7 linked regions of the Homo sapiens genome follow. The protein of the gene in region 3 interacts with the protein of the main gene of each other region in a biochemical or structural test. Each region holds a gene or a part of one and is shown on either strand. Other genes may lie near its edges. The genes, in order: UBE2I, HDAC1, PARP1, EP300, CDKN1A, POLA1 and MACROD1.

What was found.
Region 1: of the proteins of PARP1 (region 3) and UBE2I, one has a biochemical effect on the other in vitro, tested with the Homo sapiens proteins (4 studies listed by BioGRID, with this or other methods).
Region 2: the proteins of PARP1 (region 3) and HDAC1 form a complex in vitro, tested with the Homo sapiens proteins (2 studies listed by BioGRID, with this or other methods).
Region 4: the proteins of PARP1 (region 3) and EP300 form a complex in vitro, tested with the Homo sapiens proteins (2 studies listed by BioGRID, with this or other methods).
Region 5: the proteins of PARP1 (region 3) and CDKN1A form a complex in vitro, tested with the Homo sapiens proteins (2 studies listed by BioGRID).
Region 6: the proteins of PARP1 (region 3) and POLA1 interact in far-western blotting, tested with the Homo sapiens proteins (one study listed by BioGRID).
Region 7: the proteins of PARP1 (region 3) and MACROD1 form a complex in vitro, tested with the Homo sapiens proteins (one study listed by BioGRID).

What each region holds. Positions count from the first base shown.
Region 1 is NC_000016.10:1,323,136-1,326,635, reverse strand, and holds part of UBE2I (SUMO-conjugating enzyme UBC9), read right to left. Parts: exon of another isoform or gene 1,907-3,500; coding exon 1,843-1,906; 3' UTR 1-1,842. UniProt on the Homo sapiens protein: Accepts the ubiquitin-like proteins SUMO1, SUMO2, SUMO3, SUMO4 and SUMO1P1/SUMO5 from the UBLE1A-UBLE1B E1 complex and catalyzes their covalent attachment to other proteins with the help of an E3 ligase such as RANBP2, CBX4 and ZNF451.
Region 2 is NC_000001.11:32,326,583-32,330,082, forward strand, and holds part of HDAC1 (histone deacetylase 1), read left to right. Parts: intron 1-356; coding exon 357-495; intron 496-561; exon of another isoform or gene 562-876; intron 877-953; coding exon 954-1,095; intron 1,096-2,485; coding exon 2,486-2,578; intron 2,579-3,500. UniProt on the Homo sapiens protein: Histone deacetylase that catalyzes the deacetylation of lysine residues on the N-terminal part of the core histones (H2A, H2B, H3 and H4).
Region 3 is NC_000001.11:226,377,094-226,380,593, forward strand, and holds part of PARP1 (poly [ADP-ribose] polymerase 1), read right to left. Parts: intron 3,072-3,500; coding exon 2,829-3,071; intron 2,549-2,828; coding exon 2,480-2,548; intron 2,182-2,479; coding exon 2,049-2,181; intron 211-2,048; coding exon 15-210; intron 1-14. UniProt on the Homo sapiens protein: Poly-ADP-ribosyltransferase that mediates poly-ADP-ribosylation of proteins and plays a key role in DNA repair.
Region 4 is NC_000022.11:41,151,592-41,155,091, forward strand, and holds part of EP300 (histone acetyltransferase p300), read left to right. Parts: intron 1-241; coding exon 242-421; intron 422-614; coding exon 615-759; intron 760-3,403; coding exon 3,404-3,500. UniProt on the Homo sapiens protein: Functions as a histone acetyltransferase and regulates transcription via chromatin remodeling. Acetylates all four core histones in nucleosomes. Histone acetylation gives an epigenetic tag for transcriptional activation.
Region 5 is NC_000006.12:36,684,773-36,687,832, reverse strand, and holds the end of CDKN1A (cyclin-dependent kinase inhibitor 1), read right to left. Parts: intron 2,382-3,060; coding exon of another isoform or gene 2,323-2,381; exon of another isoform or gene 2,083-2,322; coding exon 2,033-2,082; 3' UTR 501-2,032; downstream 1-500. UniProt on the Homo sapiens protein: Plays an important role in controlling cell cycle progression and DNA damage-induced G2 arrest. Involved in p53/TP53 mediated inhibition of cellular proliferation in response to DNA damage.
Region 6 is NC_000023.11:24,710,918-24,714,417, reverse strand, and holds part of POLA1 (DNA polymerase alpha catalytic subunit), read right to left. Parts: intron 1-3,500. UniProt on the Homo sapiens protein: Catalytic subunit of the DNA polymerase alpha complex (also known as the alpha DNA polymerase-primase complex) which plays an essential role in the initiation of DNA synthesis.
Region 7 is NC_000011.10:64,152,614-64,156,113, forward strand, and holds part of MACROD1 (ADP-ribose glycohydrolase MACROD1), read right to left. Parts: intron 1-3,500. UniProt on the Homo sapiens protein: Removes ADP-ribose from aspartate and glutamate residues in proteins bearing a single ADP-ribose moiety. Inactive towards proteins bearing poly-ADP-ribose.

The sequences.
Region 1 (3,500 bases), on a different chromosome or scaffold from region 3:
AATTCCCCAGGTAAGGCCCCGTGTTATAAACAAACCACAAACATCAGACGTCAGACCGAGAGCTCAGTGACTGCAGGGTGCGTAGCCGGAAAAGCCAACAAGGCACTGGCACCGCAGAGTCGCTGGAGGGGTGGTGGGGGGCACTGCCGGCTCGGGGGGCCTTTGGAAGTCACCTCTAACTTCGATTCCCAGCCAACAGCGGCTGGAGTCCCACACGGACCTGGAGGGTGCCGAGCTCCCCTTCCCAGGGCCCTGGACCGCCCTCCCTGCATTCTTTGCTCCTTTGGGGAGCCCCGCCCTGCCCTCTTGGGACCCTGCACTTGGGCCACGGGGACCCAGCTCCAGCCACCGGGGGGTGCCAGGGCAGCAGGGCCAGCTCCAGCCCCAAGGCTTGAAACGAAACTGAGGAGGGCCAAGCTCGCTAGGATGGGGAGACTGGGTTGGGAGCCAGAGGTTGGAGGGCTGGGAGCACCGGGCTGTGTCCCCCAGGGCTTCCCATCTCTGTCCACTGTGCCTTCCTGCTGGGAGGTGACCGGCACCCAACTTCCCAGCCAGGCCACTTCCTGCAGTGGCTCAGGCAGCCCCAAGAGGCCTGGCCGGCCCAACCTTTGCAGAGGGCTCAGCGTCAGGACGGCTGCTGAGGCGCACAGCCTCCCCAGGACAGACCACACTCAGGTGGCCTCAGGACGAAGAATTCCAGACACAGGCTGCCCAGGGCCCTCTACCTGGCGCTAAGGGTCGGGGAAGCCCTGGAGGGCCACGGCTGTGGGCTCTCCCAGAAAAAGCACCTGGCGTTTGCCACGGGTGGTAGCAAGGCTGCCTCCTGAGGACACAAGGGACAGACACCTGAGGTGGCACCCTATGCACAGCGCAGCTCCATCCCTGTGACCTGGCCACTGAAGAGGGGAACCCCCGCCAGCAGGCTGCCCGGATAGGAGTCCTCAGGCAGCCCCCAGCCCTGGTCTGGACCTGGCCTTGTGGCCCCCAAGACAGCTGGCACCGGTGCAGTTGCCAGGGTCTCGATGCCAATCCCGACCTATGCAGATCTTAGCTGCCCAGCGCTCTACAGCCCGCAGATGCGGGGAGCACAGAAACCTCAGCAGCACTTTGTACACAGCCCTGTTTACAAAGATCCAGGGCAAGACAGAGCCTCACAGCCTGCGTGCATCCGAAGCAGATGGAGAGCCTGGTCCTGGCCCGCGGTGGGGCTGCAGGTGGGTGGGGAGGGCCGGGCACTGGGAGGCCGCCTCCTCTCACTTTCAATGATAATAATGCAACCAAAACCTTTATATAAACAGTTTATTTACTCTAAACAGCAACACAGACAAAACGCCATATAAACACAAAGGAAGTGGCGCAGAACCGAGATGCTGACCTGGGGTCTGAGGCTCAAAAGCAGCACAGCCCAGGTTCTAGAAGGTTCTAGAGAGGAGCGGCAGGAGGGAGGGTGCATTTCCATACAGCCAGCTGAGGCCAAGTGCAGCTCTGCACGGTGAGAAGCATGCCTGCATCCCAGAGCGAGGAACTCGCCCCTGGGGGACTTACCCAAGTATAAAAGTTTATAATTTTACAGCAGTTGAAATACTGACATCAATATTAAAATAAAAGCGAGTTTTACATAACAATCAAAAATACAAAAGACCGAAGGAAGAGACCCTGTATGGAAACGGGCAATTCAGCGAATCGAGACCGCACACCCGCGGCGGCAATGGAAGATGGCGCCCGCCCAACCCCCCCAGGTGACTAGTCATTGTATGGAGCAACTTTAGATTTGCAAAAATGTTGTAAACAAGTTCTTGCCAAACCAATCCCTTCCTTTTGACGATGCCACAAGGTCGCTGCTTATGAGGGCGCAAACTTCTTGGCTTGTGCTCGGACCCTTTTCTCGTACTCCACTCTGTTTTGGCTGAGGAGGTCAAAAGAGAAGAGACGTGTTAGAGGGCTGAGCTGCCTGGCCCTCACGCTCGCCCCGGAGCCAGCTGGGCAGACCAGGCTGCAGGATGGGACCTCCTGGGGGAGGGCAGTGTGGAGCTCGTCATAGTAACAGAAGCAGAAGCCCGGAGAAGCAGGGAGGCCTGCGTGGTGGGGAGCCCATGCTGGCTCTGACGTGGCTGAGACTGTCCCGTGGTCTGACGGGGGCAGAAGGGCAGGGAGGAGAGGAACCCACGCTGGGTGAACGTGGTGTTCAAGGGGGACAGAGGGGTCCCGCAGGGCTGCGAGGAGGGCTCAGGCCCAGAGGGCCCACGCCAGGGCCTGCAACATCGTTGCCGATGCCAAGTCTGGTCCTAACTAGTAATCAGCAGCTTCTCTTTTCTGTAGGTCTGGGGACAGTCCTAATAAACTGAAAACACTGACTGCTTGCCACTGTTTTTGTTAATTCCCAAAAATAGACACCAATTTCTGGAGGGTTTTTCCATGAGGCTCTCAGCCGCAGGGGCAAAGGTGTGGGAAGGCAGGCCTGGTTGAGAAGGCGTTGTGCCCGAGCTGGGCAGTGCAGGGGCATCAGCGAACAGGTCTGGAGCTGGGTAGAGTGAGGCTCAGCCTGCAAGCAGCTGCCCAGGAGAGTGGCATGGCACACACTGCCCGGGCAAAACAGGTGGGCGGGAGGGCGGCCGAGGCTGCACCTAGGGGCTGATGGGTCACAGGGTGCAGTGTGACCCTGAGGATGGGGGAACACCATGACATTTATGGAGGTGGCTCCTGGGGTCGCAGTCCTGCCAGTCTCGCCAGGATTGGACCTGGTCTGAGACACTGAGCCTCACTCTGCATGGTGGAACAGCCCAGGACGGCAGCAGCGCCGGTGCCACCCCCACCCACGCCAAGGGCCTGGACCGCAGCCCAGACCCCAGCGCCCTCCTTGGGCCACCAGCCGGCCCCAGGGCAGAGCAGCTCAGCTGGGTGGGCGTGGAAGGAACCAGAGGCGGTGGCTACACGTCCCAGCTCTTCCTTGACCAAGCAGAGGCCCCGAGAAAAGGCACCTGCCAGGGCAGGAACACGGTCCAAGGCCTCCAGGAAACCCAGGAAAAACGATCTGAAACCCGCACACATGCTTCACAAAGGGTGCTTTTCAAGCGGATGTGTGTAGGAGAAAGAACGTTTGTTTACGTGCACGCAAGTGTACAGTGCAGCCCAGCAGGCACCAAGCCCAGGAGACGCTGGGGAGAGTCACACGGGGCGGGGGACTGCAACCCTGCCCAGCCCACGCCGCAGATGGGAGCCACAGCCCAGCTCTGGAGATGGTCGGCAAATGGGGTGCAGGCCAGACAGAGCTCACGCCCACACCATGCTGGGGATGGCAGACCATCTAAGGGCTAGGCAGGAAAACATTTGCCTTTTGTTTTGTTTTTTTGAGACAGAGTCTGGCTCTGTTGCCCAGGCTGGAGTGCAGTGGCGTGATCTCGGCTCACTGTAAGCTCCGCCTCCCAGGTTCAAGCCATTCTCCTGCCTCAGCCTCCCGAGTAGCTGGGGTTACAGGTGTGCGCCACCACGCCCGGCTAATT
Region 2 (3,500 bases), about 190 Mb from region 3:
GCCAGAGTTTTACAAAAGAGCAGTTACCCTTACTGTTACTCTGATATTTTTTTCTATGCTATTTCATTAAAAAAATATATATATATATACACACACACACTAATCATGATGTACTAAATCAATTTTAAGGCCTGCTAATGGGTTACTACCCTCAGTTTGGAAAATCGTTTTTTACGAGTAGACAGTATCATGTATTCCCTGCTGAAGTAGGGTGGGAGGGAGGGGACTGGTCTATGAATTGCACAATACAGCTGTTGAATAGGCAGGTCTTAACCTTTCACTAGGTTCCCTGGGCTTCTTGGAGGAAGGGGAGAGTGGCTTAGTAACAGGCTTATGTTCTCTTTTCTCATGCCCAGCAAGTGCTGTGAAACTTAATAAGCAGCAGACGGACATCGCTGTGAATTGGGCTGGGGGCCTGCACCATGCAAAGAAGTCCGAGGCATCTGGCTTCTGTTACGTCAATGATATCGTCTTGGCCATCCTGGAACTGCTAAAGTATGCCTGCCTGGCCTTGTCTCTTGGAAGAGCACCTTAGGCCAGGTTCCCATTTCCCTCTTCCCCTGGGCTTGCCTCCCTAGTTTGCTTTTCCTACCGATGTGCTGGCTAGGATGTGCTCGGTGAGTGTCTCTGGCCATCATCTCCTTGATGGGGTCTTGGTTTGATCTGAGCCACGGCATGATCAGGGGCAGATGCTGCTCAGATCCTGCCTCCAGAGTGTCCCTGTGTGGCTGGAGTTGACCCTGGCTGTAGAGTAGGAAGATCGGACTTGGTCGGCTTGGTCAGGCCTCTGGAGACACCCGGCCGCTCTTCCACCTTCCTTCAGCCAGTTTCCACGTCTCTGGTGCTTAGAGATACCTGAGGGAGGCAGCCAGCCCGGTAAGCTGGGAGCTAGCGCCCTTGGCACGTCCCATCCCCAAAGAGCCCCCAGACCCCTGACCCCCTTCTGATCCTAGGTATCACCAGAGGGTGCTGTACATTGACATTGATATTCACCATGGTGACGGCGTGGAAGAGGCCTTCTACACCACGGACCGGGTCATGACTGTGTCCTTTCATAAGTATGGAGAGTACTTCCCAGGAACTGGGGACCTACGGGTGAGAACGCCCTTTAGGAGCCAACCGGCTTACCCTCAGCTGGCAGCTCTACTTCTCTCTCCTATCTCATGCCACTAAAAATTGCTTCTTGCCTCTTCTGCCAATCAGAATACCACATCCCAATCTGAAGCACTTGCCCTGATCTCTTTCCCTTCCTTATTCTGGAGGAAGGGAATGATGGGACATAAAGGGCCAGAGAAAGAAGAGGGGTCTCCTGACTCACTGTACTTTCCTCCTGGCCACAGCTGGGTTGCATCACACTATTCTTATGTCTCATAAGCCTTGAGTTTGGGGGTAGGAATTGGGACTCTGAAGGACATCTCAAGTGTTCTTCATGTTTTTGGGTCACTTTCCCCTTTAGCCTTTTGACTGAAAACTATGGACTGTCTCTCCAGAAAAGTACATGAGATTTTACATCTGATATAGAATAGTTAATAGACAAGTCCCCTTACTGAAGCCCATCCATGAACCTTAGGATAAGAATCCTTGGAAGCTACTTCGTTGAACTGTTCCATCTGCTTCTATTAGCATGAATGTGGTGAAATCAGCTGCTTTGCCATGCCTGGTAGCCCTTGGGTAAAAAAGTGGCACTAATTCAGTTGTTTGCCATGGCAAGCGTTAGAATAAATGAGCATTCACTTTTTTTTTTTTTTTGAGACAGTCTCTCTCTGTCACCCAGCCTGGAGTGCAGTGGCGTGATCTCGGTTCACTGCAGCCTCCGCCTCCCGCCTCCAGGCGATCTTGTGCCTCAGCCTCCGAATAGCCGGGATTTAGCTGGGATTATAAGTGCGTGCAACTATGCCCGGCTAATTTTTGTATTTTTAAAAGAGATGGGGTTTTGCCATGTTGGCCAGGCTGGTCTCGAACTCCTGACCTCAAGATTCACCCGCCTCAGCCTCCCAAAGTGCTGGACTTAAATAGGCGCACTCACTATTTTGAGGTTACTGGGAAGGACTTTCTTACCTCTCTCCTTCCCTCCACAACACCCTAGAGAGGGAGCATGGGGGAAGAGGAGTGAGCATTAGAGCTCTCTGGAGTGGAAAGGGTTGTCAAGGGTGGCTGTCACTTCTGTGACTCACCTGCCAGCCAGCTCTAACCCAATCCCAAGGTAGAAATCTTGTGCTATAGGGTAGGCTATTCAATCTCTGGTCCCATCAAGAGCTCTCAGTCTGGGGGTAGGCTTAATGCTATGTCCAGAGATGATTTGCCAGTGAAGCTAGATTTGCCAGTGAAGAGAATGGTACTAACAAGGTACCTCTGTTCTGTCCTGGCCCACATCATGGGCCTAGCTTGTCTCTCTTGAACCTCTTCCTTTATCCCTCCAGCCCCTATCCTTGACCTTCCTTCAAGCTTCATCCTTCAGTTTTACTTTAATGGCCTTTTTAATTAGGATATCGGGGCTGGCAAAGGCAAGTATTATGCTGTTAACTACCCGCTCCGAGACGGGATTGATGACGAGTCCTATGAGGCCATTTTCAAGCCGGTAAGTGGCTTTATCCACCCCTTGGGCTACAAACAGGGGATTGGTTGGCGGTGGAGGGGAGCAAAGCACCCCCACCATACCTCAGGAATCTCTCCTTACTAAAGCTGGTGGGGAGATAGAAGTGTTTGAACCCTGGATTGCTGTGTGGTCAGTTAGGGGAACAAACACCCATATTTATTGGTTCCTTCTATGGGTCAGGTCTTCTGCTGGATACAAAAATATCTAAGACATGATCTTTGCCCTCACGGACTATGGTGGGGAAGGCAGGCACATACCCAGTAGTCTATGATTAGTACTGTTTTTGTATCTCCATTTCTTTGGGCTGCTGGGAGATTATTGTGTTCTTTTGGTAGTGGTATGTCTCCTTGGTTTTTTGTGTTCCTCATTGCCTTACATTGATGTCTGCACATTAGAAGAAGTAGGGACTTACTCCAGTCTTTGCAGACTGGCTTTGTCTGGGAAAGCCCTTTGCCAGTCAGCCCATCCAGAGATTCTGGAAAGGCTGTGTGGCATGTTCCATGGGTAGGCTGGCCTAGTGCCTGTGTTTTTGAGGGATGATCAGAGGAATGAGAGACAAACTACTGCCTGGGCTGGCAGGAGGGTAGCCAGGGATGATTTCACAGAGGTGCTGATGTTTAAGCTGGACTTTGGAAAATGAGGAGGTGCCCATGTGAAGAAGGAGGTGATGGCAGTAAGGGTGGCATTTAGTAGAAGGAATGGCACTAGCAGAAGTGCAGAGGTGCCAGTGTGGCAGCATGTAGGCCAGTGTGGTGTATGGGAGGAGTGCTGAAGGAGGCGGTGGGAAGTGTATGCTGGGCTCAGTATTTCAAAGGGAGCCTTGAATGCCATGCCAAGGAGTTAAATCTTCACTTATAAACAGTAAGAAACTGCTTAACCTAATAAGGTCAGGTAGTCATTCAGC
Region 3 (3,500 bases):
CATTATGTGGTTACCTGGCCATAGTCAATCTCCAGGGGGTAGAACTTTTTGGGATACTTCGTGAAATTTTTGGAGTGCCAAGCGTTCCCGGTTTTTTCTTCATATAATTTCATGAAGTGCTCAATGGCATCCTCCTTGGACGGCATCTGTTCCAGTTTGTTGCTACCGATCACCGTACCCACACGGCCCCAGGACCTGAATATCCAATACCTGCAGTGGGAAGGAGGGTGTCAGATACACATGTGTGGGTCAGCTGTCCCATTTCAGGAGCTCCCCTTTCCTGCCATTACATTCACGTGGGGAAGAATTTTACACACCCCAAAAGGATGGTGATTAACACAGAACAAACACAACTGCTATAACAATAAAGGGTCTTTATTTTACTTTTCATTAAACTTTCAAATCATATTGACTACAAAAAATGCCAAAGAATAGTTTAAACTTGGTTCTGGCAGCCAAGCCTGAGGACTGAATCCTGGAGTCTGGAGACCTTTGCATAAAAATGATTCTAGTCCTCTCCCCAAAGAAATACAAAGTACTATCTGGAAGTCATGTGTTCAAGGAGTCAACCCTTACAGCTGTACCCTAAAAATAATGAAACTTTCAACTCAGATCCAAGGCCAAGACATGATGAAATGAGGGGGGCAGTGGCAATGGCTCCTCAGGTCCGGTGACCTAGAGATGCAGGCTGTCATGTTCAAATTCCATCTCAATTGAGGGTACACATCACACACACCCAGCTGCTGTGCTGCTCAGCTTTGGATGAGCTAATTTTTGATTAACTCAAAGCAGAGGTAATGCAACACTTAATTGTCATTTCATAATAAATATATATATATCATAAACCCACATACAAGATTTGTGTACATTTTAAAGATAGAACTACAGATTTCAAAGAAAATTTGGGACTCCCTGGCCATTCTCTGGGCTACTGAACAGGGGTATAAAAATTCATTCTCTGCTTGGTTTTTCCTGTGAAAATTTTTGAGAAGCACTACCTTGATCTACGTTGAAAATTTTTTCTGACCCTAACAGCCTACACCACCCTTTCACTTAACACCAGGAAATCTAAGCCACCAGAAAAATGTCCACATCCACAATCAACGTTAGAATTTAGTAAGAGTTCCTTCCACATGCCTTTACACTGACACATAAATGCTATTTTGTGGTGGCTGTACTGAGGGGCAATGAACTCACTAGATAAGGACCACTCTGCCTAGAAACATAAGGACAAAAGCCAGCCCAACCTCTCACCACCTCCCAGCTGCTGTACCCCACCATCCACACTCCAACCTTGCCTGTCTCACCATGTTAAAAAAAAAAAAAGGCAAATCCAACCTCTTTAGTTACTAGGGAGTTTGAACATTAAAGAGTAAGTTCAACGCTTGCCAACCTTTATTTGCTTCAAAGTTTTAAAACATATGTAAAATCAGAAAATCTTGATTCAAGTAGCTGAAAGAAAAGCCAGCTGGGGCTGGGTGCAGAGGCTCATGCCTGTAATCCCAGCACTTTGAGAGGCTGAGGCGGGAGGATCACTTGAGTCCAGGAGTTTGAGACCAGTCTGGGCAACACAGCGAGGCCCGTCTCCATAAAAAATAAGGCATGGTGGTGCGCACCTATAGTCCCAGTTACTCAGGAGGCTGAGGTGGGAGGATTGCTTGAGCCTGGGAGGTCAAGGCTCCGCTGAGCTGTGATTACGCCACTGCACTCCAGCCTGGGTAACAGAGCGAGACTATTTCAAAAAACAAAACAAATAGTTGCAAAACAACAACAAAAAACAAAACACCAAACAAAAAGAAAAGCCAGCAGAAGAATATGTGAAACCATACCTTGGGACAACTGTACAAGGACAGCAACGCTACTGGTTAGTAAGTGGCTTCTTTCTCCCCTTTAAGCAAAGGCCTTATAATTTGTTTTTGATCTCTGTGATTAGATTTCATTCCCCAGGCACTGGGCCTAACGGGTTTCACAAGGCTGATGGCACAGCACTAACCAATGCAGGACGGGCCCATGTCTCTGCACAACCAGGCTACACCTGCAGAACTCACCTGTTTTCCTTGTCGTCCTCCAGAAGCTGCAGCTTGTAGTAGGAGTTGGTTCCTTTAACGATGTCCACCAGGCCAAGGGTGGCACTGAAGACCTTCCCACCTTTCTCCAGGACATGCGCAGAGTGTTCCAGTCCTGTCCCAGAGGAAAAGCACCTACAGTTTTCTCTCCCCTTGAGGTGCTAGCACTCTCACGGAGAAGGGATCTGCAGGCCTGAGGTTCACGCCTCTTGGATACACTACCACCACCCTCGGGAGGCTCCCCACAAATGTGTGTTCTCAGGACTGGGGGAGCTGGTGAAGGAGGCCTGAGTGAGGACAAAGGCACGACCACACTGCCCCAGGTATGCTGCGGGCATTTGGATGTGTGCTCCTAGTCAGCTGGGGGTTGGGGGGCGGCACAGCCCACTTTGCTGGCAGTCCTGTTTGCTTACCAGAATCAGGATCCACAGCTGCTCCTCCTTTAAGAGTTAATTTCATTCTCTTTTCAGATTTGTTGATACCTTGGAGGAGAACAGAAAAATGTAAACATGAAGTTAAATGTAACTAAAAAGTAAGGGGAAGGTAGAAGGCAAATGAGTTGTTCTCATTCCCATCATCTGTCAACTCGGCATCTATATACACACTACTCCCGCCACCCCAAAGCGCCTGCCATTCTGTGTCCTGCTCTGCAGCACTCAACAGGCCATGTCAGGGACACAAAGGGAGAGGTTCCGTGGACAACAACCTGGCCACCAATGTCCCTGGCTTTTGGCCCTGGAGGGGGCAGCTTGGGGCCCTCACCTTCCTCCTTGACCTGGCCCTTGCTTTTTTTGGAGAGCGCAGCCCCTGACTTCCCTCTTGGGGCCACAACTTCAACAGGCTCTGCCTTCACCTCTGCCCCCCAAGGGGACAAGATGTGCGCTAAGAACAACTCCTGAAGGCTCTTGGTGGAGGCGGAGACGTCCTGGAGGAAGTCCTCAGACACAACTCGGATGTTGGCTTCCTTTACTTCCTCCATCTTCTTATTCATCTTTTCCACCTCCTCTGTTCAAATTGAAAGGAAAAAAAACCAAAATACAAGTTTAAAACAAAACTGAAACTTCAAATTACTACAGTTATATTTAGTGTGTACTTCCAAACCCTCAGCATTCACAGCTCTCCTTTGCTTCCAAGTCTAATGCTCCCAAGAGTGTTTTTATCAGCAACATTCCCCCTTTTCTAAGGTATGATGAGCCAGGGCAGCCTTCTCCAAACCATTCTACAGCACGATGTTAACAAACACTCCAAAGAAAAAACACCCTGATGTCAAATATGTATGGGAAATCCTGTATTCTATTTCTCTGGTTCCTGAAGACCTACAGTGGTAATCAGCATAATAAACCCACACAGAAACCTGTTTAGCTTTGTTTTACCCTACCTTTTCCAAACATACTTGAACCTTGAACTTCTGTTTTGGCAGATATCTATGCACAT
Region 4 (3,500 bases), on a different chromosome or scaffold from region 3:
GAAATAGTTGCTGGTTCTTTGATGTACAATCAGCCAACCAGTATTTACAAGTCTTAATTCTCCTGTTCTTAAGCATAATTAAGGGAGGTGAAATGGGCAGAGCAAATGAAAGCACCATGAATAAATATAAGCCAAGAAATAGGTGGCTAATTCTGCTATCCTGTTGCTTACCTTACATTCTGATTGTATCGTTGGCAGACTCTGCGTGTGTCTCACCTACTTCCCTTTTTTTTCTGCCCAGCTTTCCCAGCCAGCTGTAAGCATTGAAGGACAGGTATCAAATCCTCCATCTACTAGTAGCACAGAAGTGAATTCTCAGGCCATTGCTGAGAAGCAGCCTTCCCAGGAAGTGAAGATGGAGGCCAAAATGGAAGTGGATCAACCAGAACCAGCAGATACTCAGCCGGAGGATATTTCAGAGGTGAGAGTAGGGCAATTACTGTTTGATTTGGTTAGGACCTCAGTATAGGAACCCAAGTTTTAAAAAATATTGCAGAAAAATATTTTGATAATTAGATCTCATGGCATAGATTTTGCATGAGAAAGGGTGTTCAGATTACTGATTCCCAACTAGATATCTTTGGAATACTAAAAATTCTTACGTTTTCTTTTAGTCTAAAGTGGAAGACTGTAAAATGGAATCTACCGAAACAGAAGAGAGAAGCACTGAGTTAAAAACTGAAATAAAAGAGGAGGAAGACCAGCCAAGTACTTCAGCTACCCAGTCATCTCCGGCTCCAGGACAGTCAAAGAAAAAGAGTGAGTCTCTGAAGCCATTCGTTCTGGAGGTAGCTGAAGAAACCAAAGACCCAGGGCAGAATTGCGGTCATGCCTCTTGGGCCTCAGAAGTTGCCATTATTGTGATTTCATTAACCTGGAAGCCCTGGGCCTGGTCTCTTCATTGTTACTAATAATTTTTCTTTCTTTTTTTTTTTTTTAATATTCACTTGCAGCAACCAATGAGTTAAGTCATTCCCCTCATTTCTTCAGGGTTCCCTGTGTTAGTACACCCTAAAAATTGTCTCATTTTTCAGGAGAGAGAAATGTTTGTAAATAGCCTTGACTAAAATGCAGGAAAGAATAGCAATAGTAATAGCATTTGTCATTCACCTGCTGTGTGCTAAGTATCCACATTGTCTCATTTAATAATTTCTTTCTTTCTTTTTCTTTTCTTTTTTGTTTGGAATCGGATTCTCACTTTTGTTGTTCAGGCTGGAGTGCAGTGGCGGGATCTGAGCTCACTGCAACCTCCACCTCCCAGGTTCAAGCGATTCTCCTGCCTCAGCCTCCCGAGTATCTGGGACTGCATGCGCATGCCACCATGCCCGTCTAATTTTTGTATTTTTAGTAGAGACAGGATTTCACCGTGTTGGCCAGGATGGTCTCGATCTCTTGACCTGGTGATCCACCCGCTTCGAGCTCCCAAAGTGCTGGGATTACAGGCATGAGCTACCACACCCGGCCTCATTTAATAATTTCACAACAGCTCTGAGGTTATTGGCCTGAAGCTTAGCAAAGTTAAGTAACTTTCCACAGGTTACTCAGCTGACCCTACTGCCTGGGCCAGGAAGCAGACCCAGGCAGTCTGAGGCAGAGTGCTCAAATCCAGCCATTCCAACAAGTGTTAATTGACTATTTTAGGACTAGAACTTTTGTGGCTCTAGTGATCTGCAAAAGGCACCAGGTAGGACATACCTGAGGAGTGAGTCTGCTGGCTCTTACAGATGATATATATTGAAAAGTGTTCCATTAATACAATGTGTTGTAAAATGTTGGGATTAAAAAATTATTTTCATTTTAAAAATAAGACTTGTATATATTGAGGTGTTTTAATATGGGCTGTAACAAACCCAGTCTTACTATTGGCAATCTCTCTTTAAAATGTGTGTTCCCTCATGCCTGTAATCCCACCGCTTTGGGAGGCCGAGCGGGCAGATCACTTGAGGTCAGGAGTTCAAGACCAGCCTGGCCAATATGGTGAAACTCTGTCTCTACTAAAAGTACAAAAGTTAGCCGGGTGTGGTGGCTCTCACCCGTAGTCCCATCTACTTGGGAGGCTGAGGCAGAAGAATCACTTGAACCCGGGAGATGGAAGGAGGTTGCAGTGAGCCAAGATGGCGCCACTGCACTCCAGCCTGAGTGACAGAGAGTAATTGTCTCAAACAAATAAATAAAATAAAATGTCTAATTTCACAAGTTTATTCAAATAGTCCTTATTTTTAGCACAGCTAAATATGAGTGACAAGCATCTTCGTAGTCTGGTTTCCCCCCACTCCATGGCAACCCCCCAGAGGTGAAAATTATCTGAAGTAACAAATATACTCTACCGATGATGAAATTTTTTTTGCCAATTAAGAAAAAATAAGGCCCTTGCTGAAATTGAAAGCTTTTTAAATCACTGGCTTCTCAAAGAACTGTTTGATTCCATTTGGGACACACCAACAAATTTTTCCGGACTTTTTGGGAAATATCATTGAGAACACATTTGAACTTAATTTGATCAACTAAGTCTATTATTTTAGCAATACCATTTTTGTTCTCTCTTCTTTTAAACTTAAACCTAACATTTGTCATTAAAATAGTACATGTCTCTTTTTCTTTGGCTCTAAAATACCAAGCATTTGAACGAAGGAGTCTTCTCTTCTGTGCCCCTGACTCCTTGTAGTATAAGACAATACCTGATCTAGTCTAGTTTCTGACTTGTTAAATACTGATGTCATGAAGAAAGACTTTTCTGTTCTTGCTTGACTGCATCTCCCTCTTAACACGAGTATCTTGTGCACTCTTTTTTTTTTTTTTTTTTTTTTTGAGATGGGGCCTCATTCTGTTGCCTAGGCTGGAGTGCAGTGGCGCCATCTCGGCTCACTGCAACATCTGCCTCCCGAGTTCAAGCAGTTCTCTTGCCTCAAGCCTCCTGAGTAGCTGAGACTAGCATGCCACCATGTCCGACTAATTTTTTATATTTTTAGTAGAGACGAGGTTTCACCATGTTGGCCAGGCTGAAACTTCTGACCTCAAAGTGATCTGCCCACCTCAGCCTCCACCGTGCCTGGTCCCATGGACTCTTATTTGGCAAAGTCTCTTCATAAATTTTTAGAAGCCTTTGGATTCTGCTTCTAATTGACCGAGTCTGTCTTCACTGACTTTGTGACTGAAAAGTTAAGCTGAGGGTGAAGAGTGTTTTAAGGTGATAAGACACAATGTTTTTTAGGAGCTGTCTGAAACAAAGCGGGGCTTAGAATCTAGAATCAGTGATTGAGCCTGTAGTGATATTTCCATGGGGACAGAGTGGTTAATTTTGTTATTGATTCTTGAGATGCTTTTAGAGCTTCAGGCTGAATGATTTTTTAAAGTTCTTCTGCTTAATTGGTAACTAATTTCAAATGCACTTTTTTTTTTTAAGTTTTCAAACCAGAAGAACTACGACAGGCACTGATGCCAACTTTGGAGGCACTTTACCGTCAGGATCCAGAATCCCTTCCCTTTCGTCAACCTGTGGA
Region 5 (3,060 bases), on a different chromosome or scaffold from region 3:
CATGTTGGCCAGGCTGGTCTTGAACCCTTGGCCTCAAGTGATCTCCTGCCTCAGCCTCCCGAAGCACTGGGATTCTAGGTGTGAGCCACTGCGCCCGGCCCAAACAGTTTTTTTAAATAAGAGATCCAGTTGCTCCATAACCTTGCCAATGCTTGGCACTGTCAGTCTTTTTTAATCATTCTGGTAAGTGTATGGTGGTATCTTATTGTGGTATCTTAATTTGCATTTATCTGATGAATAATGATGTTAAGCTATAATATATTCTTTACAAAAAGATTACACAACAAACCAAAATATTGACATTGGTGATCTTTGCAGAGGTGTGACAGTAGTTTTTGTTTTGCTGTTGTTTTTTGCAGCAGTCTTTCTGTTTGCTAAGTTTTCTGCATTCTCTAAATTTAAATGCTTAATTTTTAAAATTATTTAATTATGAAATCCTTCCCAAAAGCCCATTTATTTGTTCTTATAAGGTATAATAACCACAATAGTAATATTACAAGTAAAGTCACTAAGAATCATTTATTGAGCACCTGCTGTATATTCAGCATTGTGGGAGGAGCTGTGAAAGACACAGAACAGTACAGGGTGTGGTCCCTGCCCTCGAGAGGTTTACAGTCTAGGTGGAGAAACGGGAACCAGGACACATGGGGAGCCGAGAGAAAACAGTCCAGGCCAGTATGTTACAGGAGCTGGAAGGTGTTTGGGGTCAGACCCCAATACTCCAAGTACACTAAGCACTTCAGTGCCTCCAGGGGCTCAACGTTAGTGCCAGGAAAGACAACTACTCCCAGCCCCATATGAGCCCACGTGGCATGCCCTGTCCATAGCCTCTACTGCCACCATCTTAAAATGTCTGACTCCTTGTTCCGCTGCTAATCAAAGTGCAATGAACTGGGGAGGGATGGGGTGGATGAGGAAGGTCGCTGGACGATTTGAGGGGCCAGTGTCTCCCTCCTAGAAAGATCTACTCCCCCATCATATACCCCTAACACAGAGATAACCCCACTCAAGGGGGCCTGTGCCACCACATGGGACCCTCACCCCCACAGCTAGAGGAGGGGGCGGTCGCTGCTTGAGCTGCCTGAGGTAGAACTAGGGTGCCCTTCTTCTTGTGTGTCCCTTCCCCTTCCAGTCCATTGAGCTGGGGGTGGGGGTGGGACAGGCACCTCAGAGCCACCTGGAGCTGAGAGGGTACTGAAGGGAAAGGACAAGGGGGAGGGACAGCAGCAGAGGGGAATTGCAGAGCCCAGCTGGAGAAAAAGGGTAGCTGGGGCTCCTCAAAAGGTACAGGGGAGCCAAAGAGGGAAAAGGCTCAACACTGAGACGGGCTCCCCAGTGCAGGTCAGAGGGGCCATGAGGGCAGGCGGGGTGGTCTGCTCCAGGACCCCACCTTCCCCCTGCCTTCACAAGACAGAGGGGGGTATCAAGAGCCAGGAGGGTACCAGGTCCCCAGCTCAGCCCTAGGCTGTGCTCACTTCAGGGTCACCCTGCCCAACCTTAGAGGAGGTGAGGGGACTCCAAAGTTTTTGATGATGCCCCCACTCGGTGAGGCCCCTTCAAAGTGCCATCTGTTTACTTCTCAAATGAAAAAGAATTCAGGTCTGAGTGTCCAGGAAAGGGGGTGAATTTCATAACCGCCTGTGACAGCGATGGGAAGGAGCCACACCCCTCCAGAGGGTACCACCCAGCGGACAAGTGGGGAGGAGGAAGTAGCTGGCATGAAGCCGGCCCACCCAACCTCCGGGAGAGAGGAAAAGGAGAACACGGGATGAGGAGGCTTTAAATAGTATTTCATAAAATAAAAATGCCCAGCACTCTTAGGAACCTCTCATTCAACCGCCTAGTTTTTGTTTAAATAATTCTAATGCCAGAGGCTGGGGGGCAGGGGGCGGCCAGGGTATGTACATGAGGAGGTGTTTAAATTAAAACACAAATAATAATTAAGACACACAAACTGAGACTAAGGCAGAAGATGTAGAGCGGGCCTTTGAGGCCCTCGCGCTTCCAGGACTGCAGGCTTCCTGTGGGCGGATTAGGGCTTCCTCTTGGAGAAGATCAGCCGGCGTTTGGAGTGGTAGAAATCTGAGGAGAGACAGCAGAAGTCAGCCAGGCCAAGAAGAAGAGGACGCGGCGGAGCTGCCCAACTGAGGAAGACAGTGGGGGGCCAGGACACCCTTCCCTGGGGCCAATGGGGCCGACTGCTGAGAACAGGAAGAACTCGGGGAACGTCCACTCTGTCTCTTGAGGGGTATTATGGAGTGTCCCACCATGCTTCACAGATGTGATTTTATCCATCACCGCACCCGCACCCATGGGTCTGCTCTAAGTCAAGCTGCCCAGCAGAGGAACCACTACTAGCTCTGTGTGCTTGTTTAAACAGACTACAATCAAATAAAATGAACAATTCAGTTCCTCAGTCACATGAGCTGTGTGTCAAATGCACAACAGCCGTATGTGGCTCGTGGCCCCTGTACCGGACACTCCCATCCCTGCAGAGTTACTGGACAGTGCTGATCTAGGGATTCTGTTACAAAATCCATGAAAGTGTTCAGCACAATGCCGGGCCCATATAAACGTCAGTAGTTGTTGTTATTATAATTAGTCTTGACCCAACGGCAAATTCACTTTGAGACCTTAGATAAATCACTCTACCTCTCTGAGCCTGGTTTCCTTGCCCTAAAAGGATGGCAAGGGGCTGGGCATGGTGGCTCACGCCTGTAATCACAACACTTTGGGAGGCTGAGGCAGGAGGACTGCTTGAGCTCAGGAGTTCAAGACCAGCCCGGGCAACATGGTGAGACCTTGTCTCTACAAAAACTCAAAAAATTAACCGGGCGTAGTGGTGTACAACTATAGTCCCAGCTTCCCAGCTACCCAGGAGGCTGAGGTAGGAAGATCGCTTGAGCCCAGGAGTTTGAAGCTGCAGTGAGCCATGATCGTATCACTGCACTCCAGTCTGGCCAACAGAGTTAAGACACCTGTCTCAAAAAGAAAGGCGGGCAGGGTGACAAGAATGTCTTATGTTATAACATTGCTATAAGGACTAAATAAATCTACCTT
Region 6 (3,500 bases), on a different chromosome or scaffold from region 3:
TTGGGAGGCCAAGGCGGGAGGATCACGAGATCAGGAGATCGAGACCATCCTGGCTAACACAGTGAAACCCTGTCCCTACTAAAATACAAAAAATTAGCCGGGCATGGTGGTGGGCGCCTGCAGTCCCAGCTACTCCAGAGGCTGAGGCAGGAGAATGGTGTGAACCCAGAAGGTGGAGCTTGCAGTGAGCCAAGATCACGCCACTGCACTCCAGCCTGGGCGACAGAGCAAGACTCCATCTCAAAAAACAAAACAAAACAAAACTATGAGATTCTATACAAGGTATGTAGGAAAAAATATTTTAAATGAGTTTAATTCAAGAAAACATGGGCCAAATGTTTTTATAGAAACTAATGAAATACCAGTTAAATATCAGCATAAGTGTGACTGCTTAACTGCTATTGTTAATGTGAATAAAAAGCTTTTTAAAAAAGTGAGAATTTGGGTTTGTTTTCCCCACAGAAATAAAAAGATAAAGCTAATCTTGAACCAAGAAATTAGCCTAGTAGCCTTCATGAGATCATCTCTTTAGCTGTATACTGAATCTGATAGGAAAATTTAACTGTGAAGAAATGGGATTACCAATTATGATATGGTGGCATCCTAATTTCCATTTTATGAGAAACAGCAACCAGATACACAGTATGTCATATCAACACTAAACAGCACAGAGACATCTGCTCATTAAAGAACAACTTTTGCTGGCCGGGTGCGGTGGCTCACGCCTGTAATCCCAACACTTTAAAAGACCGAGGCGGGCGGATCACGAGATCAGGAAATCGATACCATCCTGGCCAACATGGTGAAACCCCATCTCTACTAAAATACAAAAAATTAGCCAGGCGTGGTTGCCACATGCCTGTAATCCCAGCTACTCGAGAGGCTGAGGCAGGGAAATCGCTTGAACCCCGGAGGCGAGATTGCAGTGAGCTGGGATCGCGCCACTGCACTCCAGCCTGGCAACAGAGCAAGACTCTGTCTTGAAAAAGAAAAAAAACAAACAAAACTTTTGCCATATGTTTTCTCTTACGGCTATGTGTAAATCACCTACAAACTTTTCTAATACCGTCAATTTTACTCTCGCTTTCTGATTCATCCCAGAATAGTCCTGATCTCAAAAAAAAGCCAACAATGAATAATTGAAAGAATGTGGTAGGCCAGGCGCGGTGGCTCACGCCTGTAATCCCAGCACTTTGGGAGGCCGAGGCAGGCAGATCACGAGGTCAGGAGTTCGAGACCAGCCTGACCAACATGCTGAAACCCTGTCTCTACTAAAAATACAAAAATTAGCCAGGCATGGTGGTGCATGCCTGTAATCCCAGCTACTCGGGAGGCTGGGGCAGGAGAATCGCTTGAACCCAGGAGGCAGAGGTTGCAGTGAGCCGAGATCATGCCATTGCACTCCAGCGCTCCAGCCTGGGCAACAGAGCAAGACTCTGTCTCAAAATAAAAAAATAAAAAAAATAAGAATGTGGTAGTGGCATACAAATAGACCAAATGAAACAGAACATAAAGTCCAGAATAAGACCCAATTACTTATGGAAATTTAATATATAATGAAGGTGGCATCCCATATCACTAAGGAAAAGATGGACTTTATTAAGTAGTGTTGGCTAGCCATTTGTAAAGAAGTAAACCAGTATAAACACCAAATGGATCACAAATCAAAATTTTTAAAAATGAAACTTTACAAAAACCTTTTAAAAAGCAATTCCTTTGCAATTTGGGTCCAGTGAAAATCTTTCTATGACTCAGAATCCACTTGCAAGAAAAAAAATGATAAATTCAATTACACCAGAATTGGTGTAAAAAGAAAAACCAAGAAAAAAGAAAACCAAGTTAAAAGAAAAATGAAGAAAAAATTTGTGCAATATGTATCACAGATAAAGGACCAATTTCCCTGACAAAGAACTTTTAAAAACTTAAAAGATAAAAAGCCCAAAAGGAAAGCAGGCAGTAAACACAAACATATATAAATAGTTACGTTTTATGAAAAGATGATCAATTTCATATGTAAAAGAAATGCATATGAGGCTGGGCATGGTGGCTCACATCTGTAATCCCAACACTTTGGGAGGCCACGAGGCGGGCGGAATACGAGGTCAGGAGTTCGAGACCAGCCTGGCCAACATAGTGAAACCCCATCTCTACTAAAAATACAATAATTAGCCGGGCATGGTGGCACACACCTGTAGTCCCAGCTACTTGGGAGGCTGAGGCAGGAGAATCGCTTGAAACCAGGAGGCGGAAGTTGCAATGACCTGAGACCGCACCACTGCACTCCTGCCTGGGTGACAAAGTGAGACTCAGTCTCAAAAACAAACAAACAAAAAAAAATGCAAATGAAAACCACACTGAAATGCCACTTCTCACATATCAGAGTGGCAAAAATTCAAAAGCTTGAAAACACTGTTAGTAAGGCTGTAGAGAAACAGACATTCATACATTGTTCATGAGAGTGTAAAATGGGACAGCTCCTATAAAGAATAGGCAATAGCTAATAAAATTTTATGTGTAGTGGGCTGGGCGTGGTGGCTCACGCCTGTAATCCCAGCACTTTGGGAGGCCAAGGCGGGTGGATCATCTCAGGACAGGAGCTCGAGACCAGCCTGGCCAACATGGTGAAACCCCGTCTCTACTAAAAATACAAAAATTAGCTGGGTGTGGTGGCAGGCACCTGTAATCCCAGCTACTCAGGAGGCTGAGGCGGAAGAATCACTTGAACTCAGGAGGCAGAGGTTGCAATGAGCCGAGATCGCGCCATTGTACTCCAGCTTAGGCAACGAGCAAAACTCCATCTCAAAAAAAAAAAAATTTATGCGTAGCTACTCTTTGAGCCAGCAATCCCACTTCTGGGAATTTTCTCTGAGGAAAACGCCATATGCACAGAGTTATTGGATGTGGCATTATAATAGCAAATTACTCAAAATAATCTAAATGTCCTTCCAAGGAAACCATTTGAATAAACATTGTGCAATCCCTATCATGGAATACTATGCAGCTACATAGAAATAAATAATTAAAAACAAGCTCTCTATGTTCTAATATGGGGTAATTTTCAAGACATCTTGCTACAAGAAAAAAGCAAAGTACAAAACCTCTATAACATTATCTTTTGTTTAAGAAAGAAAAGGGGCCGGGCACCGTGGCTCATGCCTGTAATCCCAACACTTTCCCAGGGCAAAACGGGCGGACTGCTTGAGCCCAGGAGTTTGAGACCAGCCTGGGCAACATGGCGAAACTCTGTCTCTACTAAAAACACAAAAAATTAGCCGAGCGTGGCAGGATGTGCCTGTAGTCCTGGCTACTCGGGACACTGAGGTGGGAGGATAGCTTGAGCCCAGGAGGCGGAGGTTGCAGTGAGCCCAAATCGCACCACTGCACTCCATCCTGGACGACAGAGCAAGAATCTGTCTCAGAAAAAAGAAAGAAAAGGAAATAAAAATACATATACATGCCAGCGCGGTGGCTCACACCTGTAATCCCAGCACTTTGGGAGA
Region 7 (3,500 bases), on a different chromosome or scaffold from region 3:
GCTGAGGGACTGGCTCAGGCATCGCAGACCTGGGTTGTGATGAATTCAGCTCTGCCACTTTCCAGCAGCGTCCACATCTCTCTGGGTCCCCCGTTTCTCCCTGATTAGAACGGGGGTGAAGACGTCCCCTGCAGAACAGCTCCGAGCTTCCTCCCACACACTAAGGCCAAGCCGGTTGGCAGCACTCAGCCAGCGACATTATCCATCAGTCCCACCGCCAGTCAGTTCTGCCCTCACTGTCACTGCATGCAGGCAGCGGGACAGCTGTCCTCCTCCAGGAGCTGCAGGACCAAGTGGACCTGGCACCTGTCCCCAACATCCCCCCCGGCAGCGGCTGAGGGCTCCCAGCATGACCAATGGGGTTGGAATCGTTCTCGTTTTACAGATGAGGAAACCGGGGCTCAGGGAGGTTGGGAGGCCACCCTCACACAGCAGGGACTTGAGTGAGGAGCCAGGCACCCCCCACCCGCTCACAGACTCGGGGTCCACCCTGGCCGGCTCCCCTTGCCTGAGCACTGTCCCATGGGCTCCGCCTTCCCTTGGGGGTGGCACCAGGCACAGAAACCTGGAACCCGTCTCAGAAGGGCCCGCCCCGACCGCGCCAGGCCAGGCTAGCAGCTCACGGGCTCCCCCTGCTGGCCCGAGGCCGCCTGCACACCCAGGCGCTCAGCCCAGCCTGGCACCCTGGACCACAGGCTCCCGGGATGGGGCAGCCCCCACGGCAAACAGCAAAGGCTACAATTGAGAAACTCAAAAAGCATCAAAAAATATGTAGAGGCGGGAGAGCAATTAGAGGAGGTGGTGAGAAAGGAAGGACTGCAGCCTGGAAGCTTCTATGCACATGGCAGTGAGGGGGACAGGTAGGTCCCTCCACAAATGTTCAGGGAGGTTGGGAGGCCACCCTCACACAGCAGGGTGTTTTCCCGGCCAGAGTCACTTCATCATCCAGGCCTCCATCTCCTCATCTAACCACTGCTGGCAGGGGTGATAACAACCCAAGGATGCTGAGAGCATTAGATGACAGAACTCATGCAAGGGGCCCAGTCCAGAGTCCCTGCTGGATGCAAAGGTGGGGTCATCACAAAAGGCTAGGCCCACCCCTGGTCAGCCCCCACTGCTGCTCAAGCCAGAGCCACCTTTCCTGGCAGCCACTTCTGCCCCCTCTTCCATAAACATGTTTGGGCACGAGTAGGTCCTGCATTCAGTACCAGCGCTGCCACCTGCCAAGCCCACCTCCCAGAGGACTCACTGCTGCAGGTCCCCCTCCACCAGGCTGTCCTGCCTGCCCTCAAATAATCCCGTCCCCTCCCTCAACGCCCGCATTCCACGCCCCTGCAGCTGCCCCCTCCTCTGCTGTCTCCACTTCTTCCCTCCCATGCTCCCTTCAGTCCACCCAGTCTGGTCCCTCCTTCCAACAAGGTCAAGGTCACCACACCCCATGCAGCGGCCCCTCCTGCCTTCCCTGTGGACAGGAAGTGTCCTTGCTGCTTTCCTCCCTAGGTCTTCTAATCAGTTGCACAGATTCAAAACGCTCTTTAAGCAAGCAACCTCCGGGGCTGTCCCTCCACTCTCTTCTGAGCCTCTGACCCCCACAGTGCCTGCCTGCTCTCATTCCCCAAAGCCCAGGCATGCAAAACAGAACGTTTGACTCTTTCCCCCAAAACGTCATTTTTTTGTTGCTCCATTCTTCCCTCTTTTTTACTCGAGACCCTGCACCAGGGGTCCCTCCCTTTCCATCCTCTTTTGGATTGATCCCCGTGACACCCTAGAAACCAAGCCTTCCTCTCACCCTCCAGGACTGAGCCTTCCTCATGGCTCCCTAGATCCCACAGACGCTCCCAACTCCCAGCTGATCTCCGTGTGCATCTCATCCCCATCTGTTCCTTGACCGGCAGCCATGGATCCTGGGAACATAAATCAGGTGCCATCCCTCCTCTGTTCAAAACTGCATTCAAACGCCGGTCCTCTGGCCTCTCTCCCACCTCACTCCCAATGCTGCCTCCCCCACTACACCAGTTCCCCAAACAGCCAGGCTGCTTCCTGCCCCAGGCCCTTTGTACCTGCTGTGCTCTGCAGGATATGGGATAGTTTGCTTTTGTTTACACTTATTCTTTTATTTTTTTTTGAGACGGAGTCTCACTCTGTCGCCCAGGCTGGAGTGCAGTGGCACGATCTTGGCTCACTGCAACCTGCACTCCTGGATTCAAGCAATTCTCCTGCCTCAGCCTCCCTAGTAGCTGGGATTACACGCGTGTGCCAGCACACCCAACTAATTTTTGTATTTTAATAGAGATGGGGTTTCACCATGTTGGCCAGGCTGGACTTGAACTCCTGACCTCAAGCAATCCACCCATGTCAGCCTCCCGAAGTGCTGGAATTACAGGCGTGAGCCACGGCGCCGGCCCCCTTTCTTGATCTTGGCCATCTTGACCTGTAGGTTCCATAGGGGATCTGCTGTGTTTGCCATCAGATTCCCACCACCTGGCACGGTGTGTGGGCACCTGAGGGTGCCTGAGGGGCACGCTGAGGAATAAATGAGCCAAGACCAAAGGTTGAGGGCGAGTTTGCTAAGTACAGAGTCTTCTAGGCAGAGGGAACAGTATGTGCAAAAGCCCAGAGGTAAGAGGGAGCCAGAGATGATCCCCTAATTAAAAAAGAAAAAAAAGAGAGAGAGCATTTGGGTGGAGAAAGTGAGGCCAGTCGGTCTCTCCAGGTCTGCCTCCCTGTCTGAGGACGGACAGATGCTGGTGGCAGCCGGCCTAGACCCAGGCTGCGCCTTTTCTTCTGTTATAGGTCCCGCCAGGTTTGGGTTCGTGACCTCCCAACACCATGCTCAGTTTGAAGCCTTGGGTTTTCCCATCTCTGGAATAGGGACAAGGCAGGCCTTCCCTTGCTAACACCCAGGCTTGCTGGGAGGGTCAAAGGAGAAGGTGGCTGTGTGCTGCAAAGTGCGGTCTACACGCCAGACACACTCACTCCTTCCTGGCGGCTAAATAATGCCCAAAGAGAACAAAGCAAACAGGACAAAATTGTGGAGAACTTTTTTTTCCAACTTGGGGACACAGCAGCCGGAGGAACTTTTCTAATTATTTGGGTCCCCAGCACTTGGGGAGACCAAGGCAAGCCAATCACCTGAGCCCAGGAGTTCGAGACCAGCCTGGACAATATGGAGCAACCCCATCTCTACCAAAAAATACAAAAAATCAGCTGAGCGGCCGGGCATGGTGGCTCACACCTGTAATCCCAGCATTTTGGGAGGCCGAGACAGGTGGATCACCTGACATCAGGAGTTTGAGATCAGCCTGGCCAACATGGTGAAACCCCATCTCTACTAAAAATACAAAATTAGCCGGGTGTGGTGGTACATGCCTGTAATCCCAGCTACTCGGGAGGCTGAGGCAGGAGAATCGCTTGAACCTGGGAGGCGGAGGTTGCGGTGAGCTGAGATCACACCATTGCACTCCAGCCTGGGCAACAAGAGCAAAACTCCATCTCAAAAA